Regions from separate parts of the Homo sapiens genome. Here region 2 is linked to region 1. The links come from fine-mapping of genetic effects on gene expression. Tissue or cell type: whole blood. Region 1 holds a variant in brackets; the other region holds the start of a gene. All regions are shown on one strand. Distances are from middle to middle.

Region 1 (11,304 bases):
TATTTTTATTATTTTTTATGAAAATTTGAAGAAGCAGGGGCAAGAATACTTTCTGAATTAACATTGCATTTGTGCTACCTATATGCTAAAAATACAGATTCTCAGGCCACTCTTAACCATACATTTATAAAAAGATGTATGATGTTATTTATGAATGTTTAAGACAAACAAGTTAAGCCACTCTTCTATATGGAATCTAAAAATGTACAAACACTGCATTTGAAAGAGACATTCACTTTACTTAAAAATAATTATTTGCTATTTTTTTAAAAAAAGACTCAGAGTGGGACTTTTGAGACATCCTCTTTTGTACATTGAACAGTGGAAAAAAACTTTACTTGTTAACATTTTAGAAGTATATTTGTTTGCAAAATCATGGTATAATTGAAGGCAATACTGGCTATATTTTAGGAGATGCACATATTTGGCTTATCTAAATCTTAGTGTCAGAAATTGCCTACCTGAAAGTTCCCTGGTAATATAGAAAAATCTGTCCTCTTTGCCTGACTTACAAACTAATTCTAAGAAGGTTGGATGTTTTTAAAGTGTAAATTGTCTGGATGGACAGTTTGTGGTCTACAAATTTATTATCCAGCTAATACTGTCATAACTTTATGCTGTGTGACTACTGAGTGTTTTTGAGTTTTTAAAATCAGAGCTTTCCTCAAATTCACATGTGATTAAAATATTTTTGAAGAGTCTAAAATATATACTAACCTTTGAGGTTCCAGCTGGGTTTGGAGGTAGGTATGCTCCACATTTAACTCTGGCTGTGGTTCAGGCCTGCCTGTATTTTATTTTCTGGTAAAATTAGATGTTATTTTTTCTTTTTGCTCTTCCCTTGTGATGTAGTGGAAAGTGCTCTGGATTGGAGGAAAGGAGACTTTGTGTTCTAGATTCACTTTGTGACTAACTAGCCGTGTGACCCTGGGTGAGTCACTCAAGCCTCATATACTGTTTCCTGCTTTGGAAGATTATAGTTTGAAGTATGCAGTTTCTCAAATCTCTTTACAATTGCAGAGTCAAGCAAATCTAGAGTCAAGTAAATTTCCTTTAAAACCTTAAACATTCAGATCTATGAATTGATACCCGAGGCAACTTTAAGACAAAATCTTATATTTTGGACGTAATGATGCTGATGTCCAAAGATCTAGATCTATATCTATATCTATATCTATATCTATATATATATATGAACTACAAATTCTTAAATATGATTTCCAACCAGTGGCTGAGAATCCATAAGTTATAAGCAACTGTCACACATACAGTCTGAAAGCTTCAAAAATTGTATTATTTGAACTTATCTTGTACAAGAAAGCCCATTCTTTGGAAACAACTTTGCTGCAAAAGAATCATGTCAAGGGGCTGCTGATGAATGAAGTTAAAGGAAAGTAAGCACAATGAGAAAATAATTCTATGAGAAAGTGACATGCTTAAAGTCTCCTTCCTCAGTTTCTTGGCATTGAGCGATGATGCCTGTTTTGTTCACAGTCAGATGTTCAAATCAGAATTTTGGATGCAGAAACTAATTTTAGTAGGTGGGGTGCAAATTTCTTATGAGTCCATGAATAGACTCTAATCCCAGCTGTTTCATTACAATTATAAAAATAAAATTGGCTGTGAATCATTCAAACTCTGTTTAATGGATGTGAATAATTCAGTTTCATCCCACTGAAATCTTAAAACTATAAACCTATCTTTGTTCTTTATGTTCCTTCAGAGATCATATGTCATTACTCATATATGAATTATTTGAAGTATGGGTGATCATGATGAAAGTGACCAAATTTCTACTTAGCTCCTGTGGGTTTCAGGAGAGGAGGTGGCCTCTAGGGTGAGGCTAGGGATTAAGTGGAGAAACAAATTGGGAAAAGTCCAGGAAAAGAGAAAAGGGTGTTAAATTAGGATTTCTTGGCATTATCTTTCCTATCAAGATATATGTTCATTATAGACATTTTAGAAAATATAAACAAGCAAAAAGAAGAAAATAAGTTTTCAACGTTTTTAATGTATTTACTTCTGGACACAGACACACAGGCACATGCACACTCAGACATGCTCACTCACACACATAGACATGCACCTGCAAACATAGATTTGTATGTTTATTATTAAATAACTTTTAATTTCACTTTCTAATAAATTACACGCTGTTTTATAGCAGCGTATATTCTGCTACATCATATTTATTGACTTCATAGTATTTCACTATATGTTGTACTAGTTGTCCTAGAAAAACTGTCTATCGATTTCTTATTGTTGGACATTTATTTCTATTTTTTGCTATTATCAATAGTGCCACTTTTAGTATGTTTATAGCTGAATAATTGCAACTTGCTTGCGATTTTAAATTTTGAGAATTGGCGTCCCAACAGTCAGGCTCCTCTATGGGACCACACAGTAGTAGAGTTTATTGGCAAGCATAGGTCACTTTACCAGATCATGTATATAGACTCCTGAGAAACAGGAAAACAGTATTATTTCTTGGCTTCCATTATTTTGAATTGCCTTGCAGTGATAGCTAAGAAATAGAAACCCTGAAGTTTTTTAAACATTATTATAGTGGAAAAAGTGAATATGATTATTTGAATAAGGTGCATTTCTTGAGCAGCAGCAAAGAATCAGCCAGGTATTGATTTTACTTTCATAATTGAAAGATTTCTCAGTCACTTGGACATTCAGAGAATATTTCATAGGACAATGCACTTATAAAGTTATATATATATATGGGATTTAACTGCCTTCAAAACATTTCTTAATATGTCAAATTTCTTAATGTGTTTTGGTGAGCACATGAAGTTGATGCCAGTAACTACTCAGTGAAGTGTTTGGTGCACAAACTGAATTTTGAAATATTTAAATTTTCTTTCATTTGCTTACAGCTATTTGTACAGTTTATTGTAAGATAAGAATGAAAATCAGGTGTTAAAGCAAAGAGTACAAAACTATTCTATGTCCTGTCTCTTTTCAGTTGCTTCTCCAAGCATTAGACTTCTCTAGGCAAAGTCCTTTCATAACACTAGAGATTCATTATATTTGGTAGTTCATGAAATTTTAACAAGACACACTTCTGTTTGTGGGATTGGAATGCGTGTTGGTGAGTGTCCGAATTTAAATATATTGGTATTCATATGGATTCAGGATTTATTTTCAAAGAACAGATATTCACTAGACCAAACTAACCTGTACTCAAACTTGAAAGAAATAGAAATAGAAAAAGCAGAGGATAACTTTGTGGAGTTAATTCCTGATATACTGGTCTCTAAAGTTTCTTGTTGTCCGATAAATATTAATTTAGCACCTGCTGGGTTTCAGGCAGGAACTGTGGAAGAACTTATAAAGGGTATGAAAATGAGTATATCAAGATTTCTGTACTCAAGTTATATACAGTTAGCTGTAGGTGATAAGACAGGTATGGTGACAGCTAAAATACAATCAGACTTCCATAAAAGAGGTGAAGGGAGACGAGAATGATTATGATTGTTTAAAGAGGAACAGATCACATTGTGTTGAGAAAACCGACTTAGTTGTCCCAAAAGGTTTTCTGAGCTTGTTTCGGAAAGGAAGACTGGACTTTTAGCAGGTGAATATGACAGCATGAAGGGTAAGCCAATATAGAAGAAACAATGTAAGATTACAAGGGGCATTTTCAGGATATAGGAAAGAGAAAAGCTTGATGAAAAGTTAGGTATAGTATAGTATGGGGAGCTAAGACTTGACATAAAGGTTAGGATAATTTTCTAAAATGTTTATTTGAAAAACTTTATCTCAGAAGGAAATAGGGAACCATTCCAGGATTTGGGCAAAGGATAATTTGATGAAACCTTTAATAGGGTTAATATGACCATCTTACATAGGTTGACATGGAAAGGAGGTGGACGGGGTTGAGGTGACGAAGACTCATTAGTAGGCTGATCTCTTACTCTATGAGTAATAACAGGGAGCCTACACTAGGATAATGATGTTGGGAAGTGATTTCTGTAGCTATGCTGAGCAGACAGTCTTCAAGAGTTAGCAAAGTTTATATGTGCGGGTGACAAAAAAGAGGCTTTGAGTTTTGATGACTGAAAGGAGACAAATAATAGCTAATCTTTGATAAAGACTAACTATGGGCAAGGCTTTACTCTTTGTTTGTAGTAACTTACTTAATCCTCATTATAACCCCTTTATATAGATGCTGTATTTTCTCCATTTTACAGAGAGGAAGTAGAGCCTCAGAGATGTTATGTCACTTGTCAAAAGTCACCCAGCTAGTGAATGGCTGGATCAAACTGGATCATGTCCAAGTAGCCTGGCTTCAAAGTTCACACGCTTTACTATATTTATTCTTTTTTTTTTTTCTTTTGAGATGGAGTTTCGCTCTTGTTGCCCAGGCTGGAGCACAATGGCATGATCTCAGCTTACCACAACCTCCACCTCCTGGGTTCAAGCGACTCTCCTGCCTCAGCCTCCCGAGTAGCTGGGATGCGCCACCACGCCTGGCTAATTTTGTATTTTTAGTAGAGACGGGGTTTCTCCATTGTTGGTTAGGCTGGTCTCGAACTCCTGACCTCAGGTGATCCACCCACCTCGGCCTCCCAAAGTGCTGGGATTACAGGCGTGAGCCACGGAGTCTGGCGTATATTTATTTTCAGTGTATCATTAGCAGAATTCTAGAGTCAGCTGTTCTGTGAGGGTAAAATAATGAAGCTGGTTTTGTACTTACCAAGTTTGTAAGGCATTCAGATGAAAATATCTAATGGATAGCTGGAAACGTAGGCTGTCATAGGGAATAGAGGAGTTGGAATGACTTCCAAATTAACTAACATTCATTTAATAATTGAATATAAACTGAAAGCCTAGTTTGTTCAGAATATTATAGGAGCAGCATTACCATGACTAAGCTATAGACACTGATTCTTTAAGACTTTTGCAAACCAGTAGCAAAAATAATGTTCAATAAACCGATTACAGCACAAGAAAAAAAGAGTGTCAGGTACCACAGAGTGAGAAAAAACAACAACAATAACAAAAAAAAAATAGCAAAATGTTGTAGAAATTTAAAAAAGGAAATGACCCCTTCTCAATTAATCTATCAAGACAGTGTTCCAGAAGAGGTTGCTTATCAGTTGGTTCTTGAAAAGTGGTATTTGGAAAGCTTAAGAAACATAGTACACTAGCCTACAGAGAATCTAAGCAGAAGTTGAACTTTTCACTCCAACTAAAAATCTATGTTAAAAAAAATGAGTGAGGCCCCCTCTGCAGTGAAAGTTACTATTTTGACATTTGTGAGATCAAATTTTAAGATCCTCTGGGTATGTCAAAGTCTTTTCGTAATTGATAGGATTCAGAAACACCACAAAGACATGCATGCTTTAAGTATCTTATTGTAACCAGCTAAACTAAAAGAAGAGTACGTTTTAGAACAGAAGGTGGGTATTTAAATCAAAGTCTAAAATAAAAATTTAATTGTTTAATTATGTAAATAACTTCAAAACGTTTATCTTCTTTTAAATATATAAATATATATGTAGGGTGTGTATATATGTAAATAGCGTTTATTCAGATATAAATAAAAAATAGCCCTACTACTTAGGGTCGTATATACATATTATCAAAGAAAAAAATATACATGAAAAGATTCTTGAATACCCATTTAAAAATGAATGCCGTATTTACTATGCCTGTTGGATAGATTCATTATATATAAGAACTATCAAATTTTAGTTTTATGTATTGGTGTTCTGATTTATTCGCTAATCATTTCTCTTAGATTTAACCCAGTGGCTTATTTTCAAGTCTTGTTTAATGTCTTATTTTATAATTGAGGAAAAAAGAGAAATGCTTGCCTGTGATATATCACCTGTTGTTTAATCGCTAACACTGTTACATATCTTAATACTGTATCACATTAAGTCATTTTAAAAGCATTCTGCTTTCCCTTTTGTTTAAAATTCCTACGATCCCTGGGATATTGGTAGGGGGTTAATGGAAGTCTTGATTAAAATCTTCCAAGCTTTAAGGCTTTCAGTTCTTGTAAACAATTTGGATCTGAGAGATAGGCCTATTTATGACTTTTTACTAGCCTATTTACCCATTTAATGTTAAGAAAAAAATATGCTTATTAAAAGTTTTGTTATAATAAGTACAAATTAAAATGTCTTTTAAAAAATCAGCCACACTTCGTTGTGTGATGATCACAGAATTTATGGTAGTTCTTTTGAAAATTGTCTGAAGATGTATTATAATCATTTTAAAAGTAAAGGAACTACCCTGAGTATACCAATTTTCCATTATTTTAAACAAACCTTTTAAGTTTTATATCTAGATTGCTTTTAAGTAGTTATTTCCAAACTTGAAGGACTATGAACTCTAATCATAATCAATCTGCACTTGTGTCATAATAGCTAACCTAACTATATAGTGGGTGAAAGTCTTGGAAATAGGTAACAATACAGTTGGAGTTTACACTTGGGCTTACAGGCCCAGTCCAGACGATTGATCCAGTGGACCAGCCCAAGCTAGTCTGACCTTTCTTATGGCTGGCAACACTGACTGCACAGTATTCTGGTTCGGTCAGAAGTCTTGGTTATTCTATTTTTAATGAACAGACATGCTGAGTTTCAAACATGGTGGTTTTGGTTTACATGGGATTGAGTTGGCATGCATGTAGTTTCCAGTTCTTATGATTTTAAGGTATCAATTTCATGGCAATGTTGGGGTTTCTGTGATACTCCCTGGGCTTGAAATTGAAGTTCATTGAAGTGTGAGTGTGTGTGTG[T/AGTGT]GTGTGTGTGTGTGTGTGTGAGTGTGTGTGTGTTTTTTTTGAGGTTTTTCCACTAAAAGCAAGGAGCTTTTAGACAAGTATGGGACACAGTAGAACAAAGATATGAGAGATACTGCAAATACTAGTTCTTTTAATTTATCCATTTGCAAATTTTCCTCCTTTAGCAGACTGAGAGCTCCTGAGGGCTGTGCATTTTTATATTTTTGTTTCTTGTTGGCCCTGTTATACTGCTAATCTTTTAGGAGGTCTAAAATCAATATATCTTTAATGGAATAGAATTATATGAGGAAATATGCATTTTTTAAAATTTGGAAAACCATATTTTATTTGCTGTATGAGACTGCCGTACCGCCTGTGTAAATTTTCTACCATTAAGATTATAATTATAAATTGATTATTATTTGTATACTCTTTTAGGACTGATGAATTAGTAAATTATTACTTTGTGCATTATTTCCAATAACCTTTAGGGTATAAGATTATCTAGTGAGTTACTTACTCTGGAAAAAATCAATTACAGCAATTTAGGGTTCGTATAACAATAAAAAGGATTTGAGCTTTAATGGAACATTTTAACACTTGGCATGTATCTATATCTACATATATATCTATATATATCCCTTTTTTCTGAGTTATCTGGTGAAACAGAGATTTCTTTATAGAATTTTGTGACACAGGAATCTAGAGACACAATCTGCCAGTGCATTTCTAGGTTTTAAAAGTTTCAGTTCAAACCTAAAAAGTCTATTTGTTAAATCATGACTCCAAAATTTATTTTTTATATACCTTCTTTTTTTAATAAAATTGACTCTAGGTTCAATTTTGGTTGAACTTAATCAGTCTTCTTTCTACACAGCTATATTATTAGTTTATATAGAACACAGTGCTGGCAAGTGTTGAAACAAAAATGTGAAGAATGATTTACCATACCAATATACTGCTTCCTTCTAAAGAAGGGAGATATTTTAGAATATTAGATACTGGGCTCAAGATAACCAGAAATGTGTAATGGGACCATTTATCTATATCATTTTATGGCCAAGTCAGAGAAGCAAAGGCATATAGCCCAGAAAGTGTGATAAGAAGAAGAGAAAGATACTAGTAGATTATTATTCCTTAAGTCTGCAGCATGACTTAACTAGAGACAAACCTGGATACGAGAACTTGAAAGCTTTTGTGAACTCAGGAATGCATATGATGTTTGTACTACAAACTCAACCTCATCATCTTAATCTCTTTGCCTAGAAGAGATGAATAAAAGTACAGGTTATATTTATGAAACTGAAATCTATAAAGGCATGGAGCTCTTTTCCTCAAGTGGGAATTCTTGTGTGTTTATTTGACCCTTTAGCAAATTAGTGGAAGTAAAGGAGGGAGAGAGGGTATAGCTGTATGGAAATAAAGCTGGTGAAGTATTCTGCTCTTCTGTTCTTCTTAGTCTTGATGGTGAACCATGCCTACACTATACTATCACTCTGGTACCAGATTTATTGCCTGCCAGGATTGGAATTCATGCAGAGAGGAAGGATTCATGAAAAAAATAATCAAAGTCAGGAAAGTCTTTTTCTGTAATCTTGTCTCATACAGTGAGTTATTTTTGTCTGGGTAGTTTACGGGGATGTAACTCCTTCAGTCATCTAACCGTGATGTAGTAAAAGTCATTTGCAGGAAATGAAACTCCACTTTGTTACTTTTTTCACTTAAAGGCTAATCTGATTAGCTTTAAAACATTTGTTCATCTTTTAATTCAGTATTTGTATGATGCCTATGGAAGACATATGGATTTAAATAGAACTTGGCTAACCATCTGCCAATAAGAGAAAGTGAGATGCTAAATCAGAGAGGCAGGAAAGTCTATTTCAGTAAAAGCTATTTTGATCTGAAATACTGTAGGCAGTCTTACAGAGTATTTTAATTGGGAGGATATTGATGCATGCTAGTAAAAGAAGTGTATTTGCTGATATGGTTGAAGTTATGTAATCATTAAATTTCTATATAAGTTTAGAGATGTGGAACTATGTGAAATTTTGATCCTGTTAATTATAATTTTTTTTCCTAAAAAAGCCATTTGTGGAAAAAAATTTTCTGATATATTTTTTAGAGCAGTGGCACGTTTTATATCTCATGCCAGAAACTAGAGCATAAAATATCAACTTTTCAAATAAATTAACTAGAAATAAAGAACAATTTATTCAGTGCTAATTTGTTGATAATTTTTTATAGTAAACTATGTTTTAAAAATTTAACTTTGGGGAAATTAGAAAGAAGAAAAAGAATATCTTTTCTCATGATGGTAAAATGCTGATGTATAAAGCTGAAAAATTTACAATTATGTCATATTTATGTTTTAATTTAAAATTGTGAGAGTTTAGAGTCATGTAAGCATTAAGAAAGATAAAATATCTGAATTATATATATTTGCATATATGTGCATGTATATACTATTCAACTTAACCTTTATAAATAAGCCTTATTTTTATTATTCAGATTAATTGTTCATTCTTATATAAAATGTGTCTGGCATTTGGTTTTTGCTGGGGGAGTACAATAATACATGGTATCTGCCTTCTGGGAAGAAGTACAGTAATGGGTCAGGAATTAGGACAGTCACTGTCAGTCACAGTCATCATCTCAGTTAATCCTCCAAATAACATTATGATGCTGGGCATTGTCAACTCAATTTTATTGATGGCACTAAGGTATAGAAAAGTTAAGTAAGTTGCCCCAAAATAACACAACTGGTTTAAAACTCTCAGTATGAGAGGTGTTGAAACCATAGCCTCTTACAACTAGAAGATCACTGTATTCAATACTCTAATCCCTGATATATCATGAATGCTGAAAGAGGATTTAGACTCTACTACACAGACGCCCTGAAAGAGCTGCAGGAGGCACAGGGAATTATATTAACATAGTGGATTGCACGTTAGGGACAGAAATGGACCAAGGAGCACATGAGAAGTCCACATTGATAGAGGTGCCTGGCATGGGCTCCCCTTCTCTGCCCAGATGGTGTTGGTGTGACCTGATGGGTGGCACCTTCTTGACAAGGATCCTTGCTTTAGATATTTGGAATATTTTATGTTATCAAGCTATTTAGAAATTTTAAGTCACTGCAAAAGTGCTCATTCCAAATTCTGTTTCTTGCCTTTGTCTTGAATCCATATCTGAATATTTAGGAAGATTTGGTATTGGTATAGAGAGGTATCAATTTGGCAAAGATCCTTCTTTGCCAAATTCCTGGAAGTGGAATTGCTGTGTCAAGGACAGTGCACCTGAAAATGTGGACAGGTAATGCCAGATTTCCCCACCCCCCTTTCTAATAACAGTGAATGACCTGAGAAGTAATTGTGTCCATTTAGAATTTCATTAGATTACGATGGAAATGAAGGTAGAAATGAAGAATCAACATGTGGAAAAAATATGTCTGTAACTAGGAATTGATGTACTGAGTTTTTCTGTCCATGTTGATTTATTATTCCCTTGATGGCATTTTTGAGACCAATTATTTCAACATGTGGTGAATCTTTTTATTCATCTGTCTCTCTGTATCTGGAACAAGTATATCTTGGATATACCTGAGGCCTAAAACTTGGTGTTAACCAGACTTTCCTCTCTATGGTGTAAACTGCCATAGTTGGCAAGAAATATTCCAGGGAAAGCAATGTAAATTTTCTCAAATGAGAAAGATGCGTGGGTTTATTTAGGATAAAAAGCAGAGACATAAATGCTACAAACATATATGGTATTAGAATGATTATTACATTTATCCTATCAGGTTTTGAAGCAGTATTATTGCCTTAGTTTCTTGCATCAATTTTTCTCTTCATTTTTCCATCTTATCTCTTTCCTTTCACAGAATGGTTTGATGAAATTATAGGCACTAAACCATTTTTAATTACAGATCTCTTGAAAACATATCATCTCACTAAACTTCGAGGCAAAATGAAAATGTGTGATTATCCCAATTTATTAGAACTTTTGTAGCTGTCTTAAATTTTTACAGATAGAGGTTGAAGTTGCCATTACTTAGTGAAGAGTCATTGTCCGTGGTTTGAAGAATGAGTGACAAAATTAATCAAATTCTGTTTTTTTTTCTGTTTTCTGATTTCTGGAATATTGCCATTTTCCATATGTTTTTCTGACCTTAGGAATACCAGCTGGCTACAAAAAAAAAGAAGAAAGAAAAAAATGCAAAAACAACAGCAAAACTCAGAAATCATTGCTTCCCTAAGCCATGCCATTGGCACTGCCCCTCCCTTAGTGCCACATAACCTGGAGCTCACTAGCAAGGTTCTAGATCTGCATCACTTCCATTTTCTATTTTGCCAACTGGCCTTGAGCAACAGGTGTGTATTCTTCTTGTTGCTGCAGGCTTGAAGGAACTGTAGGGTAGCTTCTGTCCACAATTCTGACCACTTGCCTTTTGGCAATCTGTTTAGTGACTTTAGGCTCTTCTATCAAGGCCATCTTGTAGACTGGGGGGTTGTCCAGAATTTTATGATACATGCAACATTCTGACCACCTGCTAAGACTTAAAT
Region 2 (11,304 bases), 98 kb before region 1:
GCCATGGAAGAAGGGCTGCCCAATATGAAAGAAAGGAGACAGGGGGATAAGTACACTGATTATCTCTCTTCCTGTTCTCTGATCTAATGGTGCTCTTGGCCAAAACCCCCTGGAACCTAGATGGCAAGGGAGATCAGGCGATAAAGTGCTCCTTCTCTCATGGCACAGAGCAGAGTGAGAATGTGGAAAGTGCCTTCCTTCCAGAAACTGACAGTTTACTGTCTTCTAATTAATGTAGAGTTACTGATGAATGAAGTTTAGAGTGAAAATAATAACTAATACTTATCATGTGATCATTTAGCAATGCCTATGTGGCTCTTGATGGAGCAGTCAATTCAACTTGTCTGGATGTACTGAGGGTAAGTTAACTGTGTGACCACCAAGATGGAATGCCAGCAAAACAGGGGTTTTCATTTGCCAGATGCTCATGCAGTCCCAGACACATGCCCATGTATACACACACAAACATGTGCTCACACACACATACTTCCGTTAGATTCATAGAACATTATAATGGAATCTCTGCTGGAACCTGGACATTTGGGTGTATAAAATTAATTAAATGTCACATAAGCTTTTGAGAGTTTAACATCTGCAAAACTTGAACAGATGGAATTATGCTAAGACGATTCAATATTTTAATGGTAAACAAGAGAGAGAGAAAAAAATACTGTTAATGTCTAAAGAGTTTGCTTATTCCTACCTCACTGTTATAACTTTCTTAATTCATACTCCTGGCTTCTAAAACTACAAATAATCCCTTCCCATCTAAAATTTATCTGCTTTCAGCCTCATTTTCAATACTCCTATATTTTAATGCCTTGGATTTAAGGATCTTTTAAGTCACTATTTTTAGAGCAACATGGAATTATAAACCAAAACTTAATGATAATGAGGACAATATTTCAGAAGAGGACAAATGTCTCCTCTGATACATTGCCAAAAATATGTAGCTGAGATGAAGGCCACCCAGAAGTTTCAATTAGTACATGATGCATCAGCCCATGTGTATGAAAGAAAGAAAGAGGGAGAAGGAGGGAGAGGAAGGGAGGGACAGAGAGAAGAGAGAGAGAGACACACACACAAAGAGAGACAGAGAGAGAAAAGAAGAAAGAGAAAGAAAAAGAAAGAGAAAGGAAGGAAGGAAGGAAAGAAGGAAGGGAGGGAGGGAGGAAGGAAGGAAGGAAGGAAGAAAGAAAGGGAAGGGAAGGAAATGAAAGGATGAGTGAGCCACATAGAACATTTGAAACCTGGCCTCAAAGGTTTGTTTCTAGGTAGAATTTAAAGAGGTTGATCCAATCTCCAAAATCAATTCAACAGATGTTATTGAGTAACTATGATTTCATGATTTTCTGCCCTCAGGAATCTTTCAGTTTAGCAGGGGAGGGAGATAATTCAAGGAACAATATCATAGAAGTCACTGTGATGAACTGCTACTTAGAAATGGAAGCAAATTCTATAGAATCTTAGTTCTTGCACTGCTGATTATGATTTGGAATTTGATGAAGGTTATGAAAAAGGCAGAATCTCAGTTTGACCTTAGAAGAAGAGAGGATATGCACATGGAGATTTAGCATAAAAGTCTCTTTAAAGCCTTCGAAGTGAGGTGGCTCTGTAAGCATAAGCCAAGACGTTCTGAAATGTTAGCTGTATCTGGGGAATGGGGAGTCAATCAATGATTGAGAATGGTCTGTGTGGAAGAGTTGAGTGAAGAATGAGGCCAGAAAGCCATTTTGGACTAGGTTATGAAAGAACTTGAAGCTTTTGGGGGTTATTCTTCTGGCAGTTGAGAGTTATAGGATTTTTGTCATAAGGTCATGAGGGGTTAGAGTAGGGATGACACATTCAACTGGATGTCTTGAGAAAGATTTTAACTTTTGGGTTTGAGAAGGATCCATGTGGATGAAAAGAAAGGTGGTAACAGGTACAAACACCTTTTAAAAAGAAGCAATAGAGGACTAGTAAATGATTGGATGTGGGGCTTATGGGAGAAGGTATTGCCAAAATCCTGAGGTTTCTGGTCTGGATGACTCAGGCCTTGAACAGAGATAAGGTTTGTCTATTTCCTTCCTCCTTCCATGTTGTCTGTCTTTATAGTCTCCTCTTTCTTAATGATGATATTGGTCATATTAAATTTGAGTTTCTAGTGGATTATTTTAGTCTGAAATTTAGGCAAAATCAGATGTTGAGTTTGGTTATGTACAACTGAGAGTTTATTGCGTAAGTATGGAGTAGTGGGTGGGATAAGAGTGCAAAGCAGCAGAGGATAACGGAGCAGGGGGTAGAAATAGGAAGAAAATTGGAAAACACCTACTCTTCAATGTCAGATGGAGAAGAGTTGAATCTGGGTTAATTCAGATGTAAATGTTCTCTCTTACTTGAAAGAAAGGAAATGAGTTCAGCTATTTCCCATAGAGATTTGGTCTGAGTATACAGCACTGAATGATCTCATTTAGTTCTTTCAATCCAGTGGATAGTATATGGTTGGACATTCATAAAACCTAATGAGAAAGCAAGAATCAATATTTTTATTCTGGGATTGACCCCGGTCAGAGATTGTGTGTGTATGTCTCTCTGTGTGTGTGTCTACACCTCAGAAATTTGTTTCCCTTTTTAATTAAATAAAGCCCATGTTTGCTGGCTTTTAGGGTGGGCTGCAAGGCCCATCTGTTTAACTAGGCAATTGCCTGATATTGCAGGGGGAAGATTGGCAAGTGTAAGTGTGAGTTTGAATACCAGATACAGGCTATTTAAAGCTGAATTTTTCTTTAATAAATTCACCCAGAGGTGTTCAGCAATAGGTAGTTTGGAAAACTACCATAATTTGTGTGGAAGAGTATGTTTTTAAACGTTGATTGCCGAGTGATTGTGGGAAGAAATAAACTTAAGGTAGTTCATCTCTGATAATGCCTCTGTTCCTTCAGGTCTTACCGTGAAGGAAGGCAGAGTATTTCAATAATTGCTTTTGATATGCTGGAAGGTAAAGGGTCTTCCATTTCACATGGGGTAGGACTAACTTGAAAGCAAATAATACATAAATGTTTTCTTGATAGTATGTGTTAAAGCAGTCGGCATTTAGGACCAAGGGTTGTCAATCTTTGAGGTTTCTAAAAGGAATTGCAATTTATGACGTGTTAGGGTAAACAGTTGGATTACATTTCTGAAATACGTGTTCCATCAGGTAAAATCATTGTGATTACAGGCACTGGAACTGTAAGTAAGTAGTGTGCTAAAAGGTTGAAAATGTAAAACAAGTATGCTTGTGCTTAACTACTAATCCCTCTTTGTATCTCTGCTGAATAAACTACAAGAAAAGGGGGGAAAAGAATGTTTAAATAATAAAACAGAAAAAGTATATTATAGTATGTCATTTTGATAAATAATATGCATTAATAATACAGCTTGAGGAACTGTTTCATCAGTGCTAAAGCCACAAGAGAAGATTCCATAATTCAAAGAATTATGAAAGATTATAAAGAAATTATTTTAATTAAAATGTGCTTCTTTTGTTTGCTTTTTTCTTTCTCTTAATATCTTCTTTATTTTCTGGTGTGTCCTATAAAAGCACAGGTTGTCTTTTTAATATCCAGTCTCCATTGTTCAGAAATGCGTTGCAAATAAGGGAATGGTTTTAAGAGTTTTGCATATGTTTGACAGCAGAAGGTATTAAATGTAAATAAATCTTTAATATTTCCCTTAATTCAGTTTGTGCCATGCAAATGTCAGGACTAGAAAAACAAATCAACAAACATTTCAAGGAAAACAATATACGTAACTTATTTTATACATTAAAAACAACTGTCAAACAATTATGACCTCATGTATTAGTTGGTTGTTTTGAAATATTCCTACTAGAATTAAAAAATGCTATGAGGGCCTTTGAGCTTAAACATATTGTGTCAATCAAGAGCACATGTAATGTATCTAAAGCATGAGGTAAAAATTTTCTTCATAAATTATTTCATAAATAAATAAGTAATTTGCTTGCAAAAGTTTACAAAAATATTTGAGCTTTTATTAAGTTCTCTACAGATCCTTTGTGGTTAATGTAAATGAATTGATACAGACAGCAGTTTGATCTGCTCTACTCTAACTTGAAATACAAAAAGTAACATGAAGAGATTCTTCATTTCTCAGGCAAACTTCAGCAAGATTGAGTCCGTGAAACTTCATTCATTAAATTTTTAAGTGACCATGAATTTGTTGGCTTCAGTACCTGAAGTGTAACTTTATCCTTTCAATTAAAAGACATAATTCACCCTCAGACCTTTGGCTTTAACTTTTCATATAATATGTAATTTTGGGTACACTTAATAGTCAAATTTTGTATTATTACAGGTGGAAAAACACCAGCCATCTCAAGGGCTTTGTGCTTGCAAAAGCATGTAATTTCATTTTTTTTTTGAACCAATTTAATCAATGATTGTTTCATGTGAATAAATTTACAGTCTTGATGATTGCCTTAGATTTGTGGGTGATGGAGAGGAAGATCACTTCCCCTTTTAAAATGTCATCTAAATCTTGGGGAGCAGAAGGAGATTAGGGGCCTAATCCTTGTGATAAATTGTACTATTTAACTTTGCTAAGATGCTATAGCCTCAGATTTTATCAGTTAGATACCAGCTTCAGCAGTTTTAGGTGATATTAACCCTTTCAATACAAAACAGTCTTACTGTTCGAATACATATTTCAAAATTGATTTAATATTTTTAGTTAGTCATGGCTCAAGAATGTTTCACTCAGATCCTTATTTTTTTCCTTTAATAAAAATGCTTCTCACTGTGCCGTGCATATTTCCATAAAAGTCAGCAAGTTAATTTATGGCTTAAAAAAAGAAAATAAAAGGTCTATATTTAATATGTGAATACATTTTACAGTGGAAATTGGTGGTGGACAGTATTAAATGACTCCAGTGTGGAAATATGCAGGTGGTCATTAGTAGCTGACTATGAGATTTACTGAAGATTTTGATATTAATTTTCCCGGCATGCAGTACTATATATAAATCTAACTCTGTTCTCAAATTAATTTAAATGGATGATAACATATGAATAACTCCAGGCATATGAGGCTCATTGTCTTCTCTCTCCTTTAGGAAATATATTGTTTGCCTCATTGTGAAACTGTATTTTGACTACTTTTTCACCTGACTAGTTTCTCTATTGCAAAAGAATTATTGGTTTTCTACTCATAAAGAGTGTATGGGAAACGGTACCAAAATACTTCTGGAATAAATGTGCTACAAAAAAAAAATCACATATCTGCTTGACTAGGTATATTAAATAAAGACCATAGAGAAAAAGGAATAAGGTTCTAAAAGCACCTACTTCAGTTTTAATTTTTTAAAATGATTGGCTTTTTCACTTCTGATAATAGTATGTTTGGAAAATATACCCATCTTTTCTCTAAAAAGATGCAAGAATCATTTAGTGAAAAATATTTTGGAGGAAATTACTTCATCTTCGGCTCTCAGATTCATGATTGTACCTAAGATTCTAATTTTAATCATTTTGTAGTTTGGAAAAGGAAAGATGCTTCTCCTTTTAGCACAAAATTACTTTAAACTGACTTTCACCAGAGGAAAAACATGCCACTTAAAGTCACCCAACTGAAGAAAATGAAGTCCAAACGCCCAAGAAATGTTTACTTTGTTTTTAACACCTACTATACTTTGAATCCTGTCATGGTAATGTTTTATGCATTGTTGATCTTTAGAAGTCAAAAAAAAAAAAAAAAGCTCAATCCAGTGAACTTTATGTTGAGGCAATTTCTCTTAATAATGAGAGTATATGGAGATGTAAAGTAGGTAAAAAAGAATGTCACGCTTAATTCAGAGTTCCTTATCTGCTACTAAAACCCAAACTGCATGTATTAATCTTGCAGCATTTGAATAATGTTCCCATTTTGTCTGTTTTGTGGTACCCCCTTAAAGCACCCATTGAGTTTCTGGCTTCTCTTTAGCTCAGAAAACCATAGCAACCTCAGTCCGCACTTCTCCAACTCAGGATAGAGTTCAAGTTGTTCTCCTCAAGCCTTCTTGCCGTGAAAATCGTGGGGAATCCTGATCACCAACTAGGTGTCCTAAGACTTCTTGCCACAGATAAAGGGCGGGGGAGGGGGCGCACACGCACACACACATCCTGCGTCGTTTAATTGGGAGAGAGAAGGGAAAGTAACAACAGAAAAGGTAAAAGGACTTTGAGAGTTCTTTAAATTGTTTCTGTTAGCATCTCTGAGTGTCTGGGGAACGTCGGTTTGGCGGCCACGCACTGCCCCCCACCTGCCCCCCACTACCCCAAGGTAAGTCCTCGTCTTTATCACATTATTCCTAACGCGTTCGGATTTTTCCTCCTTTTCCAGCCCGCACGTTCACAGACGGGAGGTGGGGGAGGGAGGAGGGGGGAGAGGCGGGGCGGGAAGGTAGCCGGGTCCCTGCACCGCGCCGCTCTCATTTGCGGCGCTCCGACTCGGGCGAAGTTCTCGCGCAGCCGGCTCGCCGCGGCCGGGGCCGGTCCCGGCGGGCGGCGGCGGCGGGTGCTCGGAGCCGGGCGGGGCGGCGGCGGCGGCGCGGGGACGCGCGCTGTCTCTTTAAGGGAGCTCGGTCTGGGGTGGCGCTTTCCTCCGCGAAGGCTCCTTTGATATTAATAGTGTTGGTGTCTTGAAACTGACGTAATGCGCGGAGACTGAGGTCCTGACAAGCGATAACATTTCTGATAAAGACCCGATCTTACTGCAATCTCTAGCGTCCTCTTTTTTGGTGCTGCTGGTTTCTCCAGACCTCGCGTCCTCTCGATTGCTCTCTCGCCTTCCTATTTCTTTTTTTTTTTTTTAAACAAAAAACAACACCCCCTCCCCTCTCCCACCCGGCACCGGGCACATCCTTGCTCTATTTCCTTTCTCTTTCTCTCTCTCTCTCTCTCTCTCTCTTTTTTAATAAGGGTGGGGGAGGGAAAGGGGGGGGAGGCAGGAAAGACCTTTTTCTCTCCCCCCCGCAATAATCCAAGATCAACTCTGCAAACAACAGAAGACGGTTCATGGCTTTGGCCGCCGCGCCACCATCTTTCGGGCTGCCGAGGGTGTTCTTGACGATTAATCAACAGGTAAGGAGGGGAGGCCCGAGCGGGCCGCGGGGCCGGGGGCTGCGGGGGGCGCGGGGGGCGCGGGCGCCCCTCGGCCGGGCCCGGGGCGCCGCGACGCGAGTGCAGCGCCCGCTCGTGTGCGCGCAAAATGTGGGCGATCGCGAGCGGGGAGCCCTGGGAATTAAAAGTGACTTTCTTTGAAAAAAAAAAAAAAAAAAAAAAAAGCAGAGGGAGAGTGTGCAGAAAGCCAAGCGCAGGCTTCTCGGGTTTCACATGCATTTTCTTTCTTCCTTTTTGAGCGTGTGATTTCTTTCTTTCTTTCTTCTCTTCTGCTCCCTTTTTCCCCCTTCCTCTCCTCCTTTTGGTGGGTCTGAGGCATCTGAGCTTTGGAAACCAGCGACTTCAAACTGCAGTAGCCCCTGGAGTCAGCAGGGTCAAGTTCAGCCGCCGGGGAGGAGGAAAAACAAATCCCCATTTGCCAAAAAAAGAAGTTTCAGGCCGGTGCCCCCTCCCCCTCGCAGCCCCACTCCCCCTCGCTGTCTCTTTCTGGCTGATTTTAATTCTCTCCTACCGGGCGCAGCGGAGGAGCTGGAGGTGGTTGGACCCGAGGGGCCGCCGCCGCCGCCGCCACTGCAAGTTTTCTGGGGGCTCGTGACAAGCGGGGCGCAGACTAGGCACCAGCATGCAGAGTAGTAAGTTGGGCGAACTCGGGAGGGTCGGGAGGGTCTCAGAGACGGGCCTCCGTATGGTCTCCAAAGTGGGAAAACAGCACAGGACTGCCTTTGGCTTTGAAGAGTTTGCAAATGCAGGCTTCAAACTTTTTTCCCTTAAAGGCCCAGCTGGGCTCTGGAGAAGGCGGGTGTCGCATCCCTTGGTGCACCCGCCTCAGAGCGGCTCAGGACAGCTTGGCCGAGCGGTCTGTGCCCTGTCCGTACCATGTGGCAGGGCCTTGCAGCCCGGGCGCTTCCGTAGGGGCTGAGGAAGGGGCAGACTTCCTCTGCGATGCGGTTGATGCGCCATGTGTCGCGCGGGTCAGGGGACACTGGCCGGTGATTAAATGCCTGACAGCGGTGGGACATCCAAGCGGACAGACGCTTTGCCTTCTGTCTGGTTCCTGTTTGGGATCTAGAGAAACGCATCTTTGAAAGGCCAAGGCAAACATCGCTGTCCCTCCAAATAACTCCAGGATTATAGGACCCCAGGAATAATTTGAGGGTGAGGCGGCGGTGGGAGCTGTTTGAAGTGTAAAGCTGTTTTTGTGGCTGGGAAAGCTTTTTCGTTAGTACCTGTCTGAGATGGTGGTGTTTCCCCCTTTCCCCAGGGAAGTCAGCAACTGTTTTATGGCCCCAGGACTCTAAAGCAATTTAAGTTAGAGGGTGAGAAGGACTGGTGGGTTTCAGAGGGAATCTTGGACTTATTAAATTTTAGGACCGGCTTTACTTCCCTCTATCTTTTTAGGCCTCATATTTGATGCTTTGAAAGTTTTTTGAGTAAGCCATTGATCTTAATGATGAATCTAAATTATGATAGAATATTCATTCTTATGCCATTTTGGAAAATCACGGCTAGAGTTTAAGCGAGGTAAGTGAAGTGAGAAGCTCAGCGGAGGAGTTAAATCTGAGACAAGTTAGGCCTATTCATTGAACTTTTGTAGATTCATTGAACTTTTGTAAACACACCAGGTGAACAGGAAAGGAAAGGGTCTGGGAGAGATAATAAGTACAAAAGAAAAATACAGATAGGGCCTGAGACAAAATTACAAAGAAATGATAACTCTGGGCCTGGTTGTTGGCTAAAACTTGATTGTTCAAAGCAAAAATAAAATAGGAACCTTCCAACAATTCTTCAAAGTCCTCCAGCTCTGAAGCTAAAACCTATGGATCTTGCTGGCATCATGTTACTTTCCTGCTGGTTTTAGAAAAAGTTGATCATTTAGAAAAGGCTGCCAGAGTTAAAAATGCAAGGGACAGCAGAGGAAAGTCATGCGGGCAGCCAGTTCTTGACGTGGACAAAATGAGAATGAAAGTTTCTGAACTCACTGTTGTGAAGTTTTACATGCCGCTCATTTGCTTAGAAGGCTCTCTCAGATATTCCACCAGTTAACGTATAAAAGCAAACAGGATCTAAAATCGTGTGGGCTTTTTTTTTTTTCTTTCCCCAAGTATGCCAGGGTTGTGAATAAATACAGGGTTTGTATGGGAAGATGAAGCGTTTCCTGTAAGTTCTGATGCTGACAGGACAGTCTGGAAATGATACCAACATTTTGAGGATTTTTTTTTTTTACCTTTAAGTGAAAGTTTATTAATGATATGCTTAATCTTAACAAGTCAAACATATTCTTAGAGTTTCTCTCTCCTTGGATTTCATAACTTCCTTTTAAAGCTACACCTTTGGATAAAAACATCTCTAGATTCAGTTCAATATACAGGGCTAGTAACATGCTAAAGTTTGACGATTATTTCTGGATGTTAATAATGTGAAAATAAAACTCCTGAGGGGCAAATAGAGCCTTAATACCAACATTATAACTTGATTTCTCTGAATGTGAGGCCTTCTGAAGCTTCATTAGTACTCTGTTGGCGAAGTATTATTTACCACTGGCGAGCTGATGTTTATGGCTTCCTGATATGTATGTTATATGTTAGGATATATATGTGTAGACTGCTTTTCCATACATAATACCTAAGTCTAACACTTTTCAAATAAGTGGTGGAAAGTAGCAAGTTACTAACACAAAGTTTGTCACTCCTTTGAATTCTAGATGCTGTAAGGGTCTGTGCTACTATTTAGGTTTTGTCCTTTGTCTCTTAAAGGTAACGTTAAAGGTAAGGAGAAAAATGTCATAATAGCTGTGAAGTCTGAGCTGAATTTAGAACTTAGCATTTCGATGACTAATATTTTAAATGATTTTATAAAATTTTCTGCATACGTGTTTGAAAACCAGTTTAGGATCGGAATCAGTGTGCTAATCCGAAATAAGTTACACATACTACTACCATATTTTCAGTATTATTTAAGTCACCTACCACTCCTGAGTTTATTCTGATTTACATCATATAGATCTCTTCCTATAAGGAAATATTCATTCATAAGGAAGACCTTTAAAACAGGGAAATGCATGCATCTGTAGAAAAGCAGCTTTTACGATTCTAGTATTTCAGTGACGGTTCTATTATCACTACTATTATTAGATGTATATGTGTATGTGTGTACAGACATACAACCCACAATATGTGATTAATGATGTGTACATTTTTATTAAGAAAGCAACCAAAGACTGTAGATTTTTATAAACGCTTGTCTTACCTTCTTTGTTGTAAATAAACATTACTGAAAGTTTCCAGAGGACTTGCAGCAAATTGTTTTTGAACTAGAACTTTATTCCAAATTTGAAATTGGAATAAATGCTGATAACTGACCTTTAAACATTTTTCATAACATGAATATTTTAGAATAATTATATTTTAACTTCAGTTCTTCTTTTGATAGCAACAATAATGTAACAACACTATGCTATTACGTGTACAACAACACAGACTTTAAGAAAGTTATGGGCAGGTGTCTATAATTGATTTAAAGGAAAGATTATTTTTGTAATAAGTGATGAACTTAAAATGACTGGCTTACATTAAAACATATTCTTATTAAGATTTCTCTGGTGTGTAAAATGAAGCCATTCATTCAACAGGCTGACAACTTTCCACTTGGTATTTGCCTTTCCTTAATTTAGTTTCCGCAGGACAGCTAGTGTGGTAGTCTGCATCTGTTTTTAGCAGGCATAGAAAACTATAAACTCAGACAGTTCTGTCCCAAATATTGCAGCTCACAAGTTACAATCAATTTGATAAAAACCCGCAAGTTTTATGGGCTCGTATTTTGTTGTTCATCCTTGCTAGGTCAAGCTTTCAGGTAATAGGTTTCTTTTTCTCCCTCTTTTGCTGATGATAACTGCTAATACCATTGATAACTAATTCTGAGTCTTGTTTACTCATTTATCATCCTTATTTACCATTTGTTGAAGTTTTGGGAAATTAATGACAGCATACGTAGACTTGCGTTTACTTTGATGGCTTATCTGTGAAAATGACATTTATCTTTTGTTATTATACAGAAATAAGTAAATTCTTTGTTACCATAATAGTTATGATTTATGGAATTTTTGAGTCCCCCTTAGATATAGCATAAAGATGGTCTTCTAGCCTTTGCCAAGTAGACATTTAATCTA

The links. PIP is the estimated chance that this variant, and not a neighbour inherited with it, causes the effect.
Region 2: TRPS1 starts here. The variant in region 1 is fine-mapped to the expression of TRPS1 in whole blood (INTERVAL, PIP above 0.99).

The regions. Positions count from the first base shown.
Region 1 is chr8:115,566,169-115,577,472 of GRCh38, reverse strand. All of the region lies in intron 5 of TRPS1 (transcriptional repressor GATA binding 1), which reads left to right. Among named protein-coding and RNA genes, the nearest start is that of TRPS1-AS1, 62 kb to the right of the region's middle. The variant T/AGTGT (reference allele first, on the strand shown) is at 6,764.
Region 2 is chr8:115,664,341-115,675,644 of GRCh38, reverse strand. TRPS1 (transcriptional repressor GATA binding 1) reads left to right here and starts at 6,670. Exons shown (of 7, transcript NM_014112.5): 1 at 6,670-7,100. RefSeq lists a silencer at 6,396-6,555 and enhancers at 6,372-6,913, 7,026-7,075, 8,056-8,175, 9,213-9,302.